Linked DNA regions of Homo sapiens: region 1 is linked to region 2. A link means that fine-mapping ties the variant in region 2 to the expression of a gene that starts in the linked region. Tissue or cell type: lung. Region 2 holds a variant in brackets; the other region holds the start of a gene. All regions are shown on one strand. Distances are from middle to middle.

Region 1 (2,913 bases), 87 kb after region 2:
ATGTTTCGATGTTTTGAGAGCATTCACAATGTTCCTGCCCTTTGACCTCCCTATAATTTCATTTTTGGGAACTGTTTTTTTATTTTTTTTTGAGACAGGGTCTCACTCCATTGCCCAGGCTGGAATGCAGTGGCAAGTTCACTGCAGCCTCGAACTCTCAAAAATATCTTGGTCTGGATGGTCATGTACATGGTCACCCAACTTTTTGGCCACATTAAGAGTTTTGTCTTTATTCTAAGAATAATGAGAAGCCATGATGGATTTTGAGCTAGAGGAGGTTGGGGGGTAGCATAATCAAATTTTAGTTGTGAAAATACTACTCCTGCTGCAGGGCAAAGAATGGATGGGAATATTGAAAGGAAAGGATAAATACCTTTAGATTAGTTAAGAGGCTACTACTGGACAACAGATCATGGTAGATTGGTCTAGGGTAATAGTAGCAGAGACAGAGATACTCAAATGGATTTGAGATTTGGTTTGAAGATAAAATGAATAGAACTTGATGATTGTTTGGATATGGAAAGGAAGAAAGTGCGAGGTGTCAAGGATGAGGCCAAGATTTCTGATTTGCAAACTAGAGGTTGGTATGACCCATTGAGATAGCAACAGAGATTTACACGAGCTAAAAATTTAAATGCGCGATATATCTGCATATCCATCACTGTCTAAAGGCACGGGCCTGGAGAACAAGGAAAGAGTTTGGGTTCAAAACTTGTTGATGTTCCTTTCCATTCACAGAGCCCTCTTTCAAGGCAGGACTATCCTATTTTCTGGTTGGATATTGGAGTCATTTGGTGGTCAGGCAAAAAAGAAGGTCCTTCTTAGCTGGTGATATGGGACGGGGAGCACCAGACCACTCTTAGCATGCAAATATCCCTTACTAACGCTCAAGTGCTTTTCACATGTACTGTTCACAAAACAGCTTCACATATAGGTTCACTGAAACCCACGACCTTGTGAGAAATTATAATCTACATTTAGGAAGCTGAGGGAGAGTTCTTAAATTACCTGTCCACAGAGCCAGTACGGGGCTGCTTTATGTCATCCTTTCACCTCCTATGTGCAGCCTCTAGGTGCAAGAGACTATCTTAAGGGCAACAGGAAACCTACCATATAATGGGGTCCCACTAGGTACCAGGCTCTAGCAGTTTAAAAAAAAGAAACACAACTTCAGAACTTCTAAGGATGTTTCCCACACACTTACCCCACAGTAAGTTCGCTTCTAAACTTTCAAAAAGTTTCACGTCCCAAGATGGGGTGAAGGTGAGACGGTGGAGATGAACCGGGGCAGACAGAGACCACCCCAAATACCGGACCCGGGGGAAATGGGGTACCAACGGCTGGGCCCCAGGAGACACTCGGAGGGGTCCGCGGGCTCGGCCCGGTCCCTCCGCTGGGGGGTTACCAGCCGGCCGGCAGCGAGATACCCAGAGGCCCGTTTTTCCACCGCGTTGCCATAGCAACGGCCTGGCCGGCTGCGCCCCGGGCCGCCCGCCCCATCCCGCGGGCCCGCCCTGAGCCAGTGACTCCAGGGACCACTCACCGCGGCCGGCGGACTGGCGGGTCTCCGACAGGTGCGCACACTCGGCGCAGGCTGTCGCTGAGCCCGGAATTCTGCACCGGGAGAAACTTTTCAGCCCGCAGAGCAACCGCAGGGCAGTGGACGGGGGCCGCGCGAGGACAAACAGCGGCGGCGGGTGCAAAGCCCCTTCTCCAAGCCGCGGGGTTGGCCGGGAGGTGCCGGCTGCACAACGGCGCCCACGTGACCCAGGTGCAGCCCCAGGCGCGCCCAAGGGCAGCTCGCCTTAGAGAAGGACCTAAAACCCCGTCTGGGGCACAGAGGAGCAGCCACGTGTTACGTAAAATAAAGCTTTGTAGCAGGAATATCACAGTACTGAGGTGATTGATGCTCAGGCCACTCTTCTCACTCGGAGTCAAGCCCATCAAGCCCCAGCCAGTTGGAGCAAGGGCTGCAAGCCTTGAACTGCAGTGAGTGGGGAGCTGGCCTAAAAAGACGGGAAAATGCTGGGGGGAGGGTGTTTGTCCCCACGCAGGGGCTGAGAAGACTCCTGACAGATCAAATGACGATTCTCAGGGATATGTTTTAGCTACAAACCTATGAGAACCATCTGAATGCCTGCCCCATGCAACAGAGGGTCCAGCTGTATGCTAATGTATTTACTGGCCTGAACTAAGAATGGCTTCTGTGGTCCTGGGTCCTACTCTCTAGCAGTGTGGGGAAGAAATTCAACTCTCCTAATACTAGCCTAATTATTTGAGGCAGATGTTCTCTAAAATTAGCTGATTGATAGCCAGTAACTTGATACGGCAGGTGGATTCATTGTATTGCTTCGGGGGAGGCTACATTTGGCAACTAGTTCATCCAGTCCTTTTCATCAAAAAACTCAAAATGGTCATAATGGGTGACTGGTAACTTCAAACTTCAAACCACTGGACTAGGCCGGGCGCAGTGGCTCACACCGATAATCTCAGCACTTTGGGAGGCCAAGGCAGGAGGATTGCTAGAACCCAGAAGTTCAAGACCAGCCTGGGTAACACTGGGAGGCCCCCATCTCTACAAAATTAAAAACTACCTGGCCACCAAAGGGCTGCAAGAAACCTACCATATAATGACGTCCTACTAGGTACCAGGCTCTAGGAGATTAAAAAAGATCTCCTAGGATAATCTCCCGCATCTTAAGGTCCTTAATCACATCTGTAAAGTGCCCTTTGCATATAAGGTAACATATTCACAGGTTCCAGCCTGGGCGACATAGCCAGCCCTGCCTCTAAAAACAAAAGCAACCACTGGACTGCGTTTTGCCCTGGATTAAACCAGACCACCAAAAAACTGTATGTTTGTACCATTTTGTCTTCACCGTTGGCAACATTGCATGAACCAAGTCATGTTTA
Region 2 (2,913 bases):
GGTAAACTGCAAAATGGCTTTAAAATGCCATATACTGTATTATTATTTCTGGGCACTTCCAGAGAAGGGGAGCTTACATTTTGCAATGCCACCCAGTCCAATTTTGATAGCTATAATTGTCACAATCTCCGTAAATTCAACTCTTGTCCTAAAATTCTTCCAACTCAACATAATAATCTAATCTTTTTTCCATATGATAACCTTTTAAATAGTGAAGATCAGAGCTAAGTTACCCTTACTAACTTTGTCTTCTCAAGGCTAAACAGTTTCAGCTTCTTTGAGGAGGTGGAAGGAAACTTACCTTCAGAGAAACTCTCTTTTTGATAATTTGGGCAGTACTAAAGAGCCCTATATTCATTTTCTATTGCTGCTGTAACAAATCAGCACAAACTCAGTGGCTTAAACAATACAAATTCAGTATCTTACAGTTCTGTAAGTTAGAAATCTAACAGCCTCCCTGGGCTAAAATCAAGGTGTCAGCGGGGCTGCATTCCTTTCTGGAGGCTTTAGGAGAGAATCTGTTTCCATGCTGATTCTCCACAGCTGGGAAAGGTTCTCCGATTTTTTTAAGGACTCGTGTGATTAGATTGGGCCCACCTGGATAATCCAGCAAAAAAATCCCCTCATTTGAAGATCCTTAACCTTAATTAATTCTGCAATGTCTCTTTTGCCATTTAGGGTAACATTTTTACAGGTTCCAGGAATTAGGACGTGGACACCTTTGGGGGGCCGTTATTCTGCCTACCACAAGCTCCTTTATGGCCATTTTCCCTCTTATATTTGTCAACATCATTTACCCACATACACACTTTTACCTTTTTAATTTGATATAAATACACACACATACATATGCACATACATATGTGTGTGCTTATAAATAAATTATCCCTTTCTCCCCTGCTTACTCTGAGTGTCTATTCACATGCTAGCCATGGGGCATCCTATACAGTAGATTATACTTCAGATTTCCAATTCTGATCATTGCTTTTCAAACTAAATATGGATTTATCTTAAGTGACATGTGGTCACTTATCTCAGGCTTTGTCCACACAGCATCAAAATATTAAGTAAAAATGAAAATTCAGTCCATTTTCCAGATTTACCTAATTTCAGGGATCTGAAATACAAAAAAAGATGACGCAAGGCCTTCTAGCAGCCTTGCCCCCAAAAAGAGCCTTGGTTGAGCAAAACTCCCTGAGCCAACCAGCCCTCTAGCCTAGCTCACTGCTCTTGATAAGTGCTGTGTTCTTTCTACGATACCCAAAGATTGCCTAGGTTCAAATTCTGGCCACTTACTAAGCCTGTGATCTTAATCCACTTAATCTATTTGTGTTTTAGTTTACTCATCAGTAAATTGGAGATAACAGAGCACCTTCTAGAGGCTTATGATGAGGAGTGAATGAGTTAATACATATAAAATACTTATACTGCTGCCTGATAAATTATAAACACTCAATGCACATTGTAAGGGGGTATGAGACAGGGAATAAGTCTAAATCACTACCCAGCGAAGAGTCTTTGATGACTCCTGTGGTAAAGGTGAAGGAGGAAGGAGGAAATATAGAGCATGTCTATGTCTTAAAACCCATTTATCTTAAAGAAGACTAAATAAGGGGGATGGGGGGGTACACTTAAAGGCACCCCTGATGAAAAACCTCTGTCTCCACATAAGTCCAATCAGAAATTGATTGGGTAAACAAGCCCCTACTTTTTAATACAAACT[G/A]ACAACTGAGGCAAATATAATAATTCCACAAGCATTTAATGAGCACCTATAATACGACTCCTATCACAAGGATCGTGCAGTCTAGTTGAGTATTTCTCAAAAGCTTTTGACCTGATCTACAATAACAAATACCTTGTTTTTACTTTGTTTTGTTTTGTTGTTGTAGTTGTTGTTGTTTTGAGATGGAGTCTCACTCTGTCGCCCATGTTGCAGTGCAATGGCACGATCTCGGCTCACTGCAACTTCTGCCTCCCAGGTTCAAGCGATTCTTCCATCTCAGCTTCCCAAGTAGCTGGGATTACAGGCACCCTCCATCATGCCCAGCTAATTTTTGTATTTTTAGTAGAGACGGGTTTTCACCATGTTAGCCAGGCTGGTCTTAAACTCCTGACCTCAGGTGATCTGCCCACCTTGGCCTCCTAGAGTGCTGGGATTACAGGTGTGAACCACCACGCCCAGCCAACAAATAGGTTTTTACATTATGACCCAACACACACATACATGTATATACTGAAACAAATACTCTACCTTCTATTCTTTTTTTTTTTTTTTTTTTTGAGACAGGGTCTCACTCTTTCACCCAGGCTGGAGTGTAGCTGCACAATCATAGTTCACTGCAGCCTCGAACTCCTAGGCTGAAGTGATCCAACTACCTGAGCCTCCCCAGTAGCTAGAACTACAGGTGCCCACCACCACCACAGCCAGCGAATTTTTTAATTTATTGCAGTGATGGAGTCTCCCTATGTTGCCCAGGCTATTCTCAAACTCCTGGGCTCTAGCAATCCTCCCACCTTGGCCTCCCAAAGCATTGGATTATAGGCATGAGCTATTGTGCCTGGCCTTACCTTTTCTTCTTGTCTATTCTATTCCTCTTTTAAAAAACTCTTGTCACAACACCCCTCATCCCACTAAATTGATTTCACTACCCATTAATGGTCATGATCCAAAGTTTGACCAAACTGGTATTGAAAAACCTCAATCGGGACATGTGAGGAATTAACTTTAACACAATGGAGAATGGAAATGTGGAGAATGGGTTTCTCCCTAAATAGGAGCTTGAAATGAATAACCATCAAGGTCTCAGTCAATTCTAAAGGCCACTCATGGCCGGGCTCAGTGGCTCAAGCCTATAATCCCAGCACTTTGGGAGGCCGAGGTGAGCAGATCACCTGAGATCGAGAGTTCGAGAC

Direction of the effects. Positions count from the first base shown, and alleles are read on the strand shown. Sizes are in standard deviations (SD) of each study's normalised expression.
As copies of G replace A in region 2, the expression in lung of the gene that starts at base 1,689 in region 1 goes up (small effect, 0.18 SD a copy in GTEx).

What was found.
Region 1: it holds the start of STK33, and the variant in region 2 is fine-mapped to the expression of STK33 in lung (GTEx, PIP 0.94).

What each region holds. Positions count from the first base shown.
Region 1 is chr11:8,592,540-8,595,452 of GRCh38, forward strand. STK33 (serine/threonine kinase 33) reads right to left here and starts at 1,689. Exons shown (of 16, transcript NM_001352389.2): 1 at 1,544-1,689. RefSeq lists a silencer at 1,252-1,511.
Region 2 is chr11:8,506,007-8,508,919 of GRCh38, forward strand. All of the region lies in intron 1 of STK33 (serine/threonine kinase 33), which reads right to left. Among named protein-coding and RNA genes, the nearest start is that of STK33, 87 kb to the right of the region's middle. The variant G/A (reference allele first, on the strand shown) is at 1,724.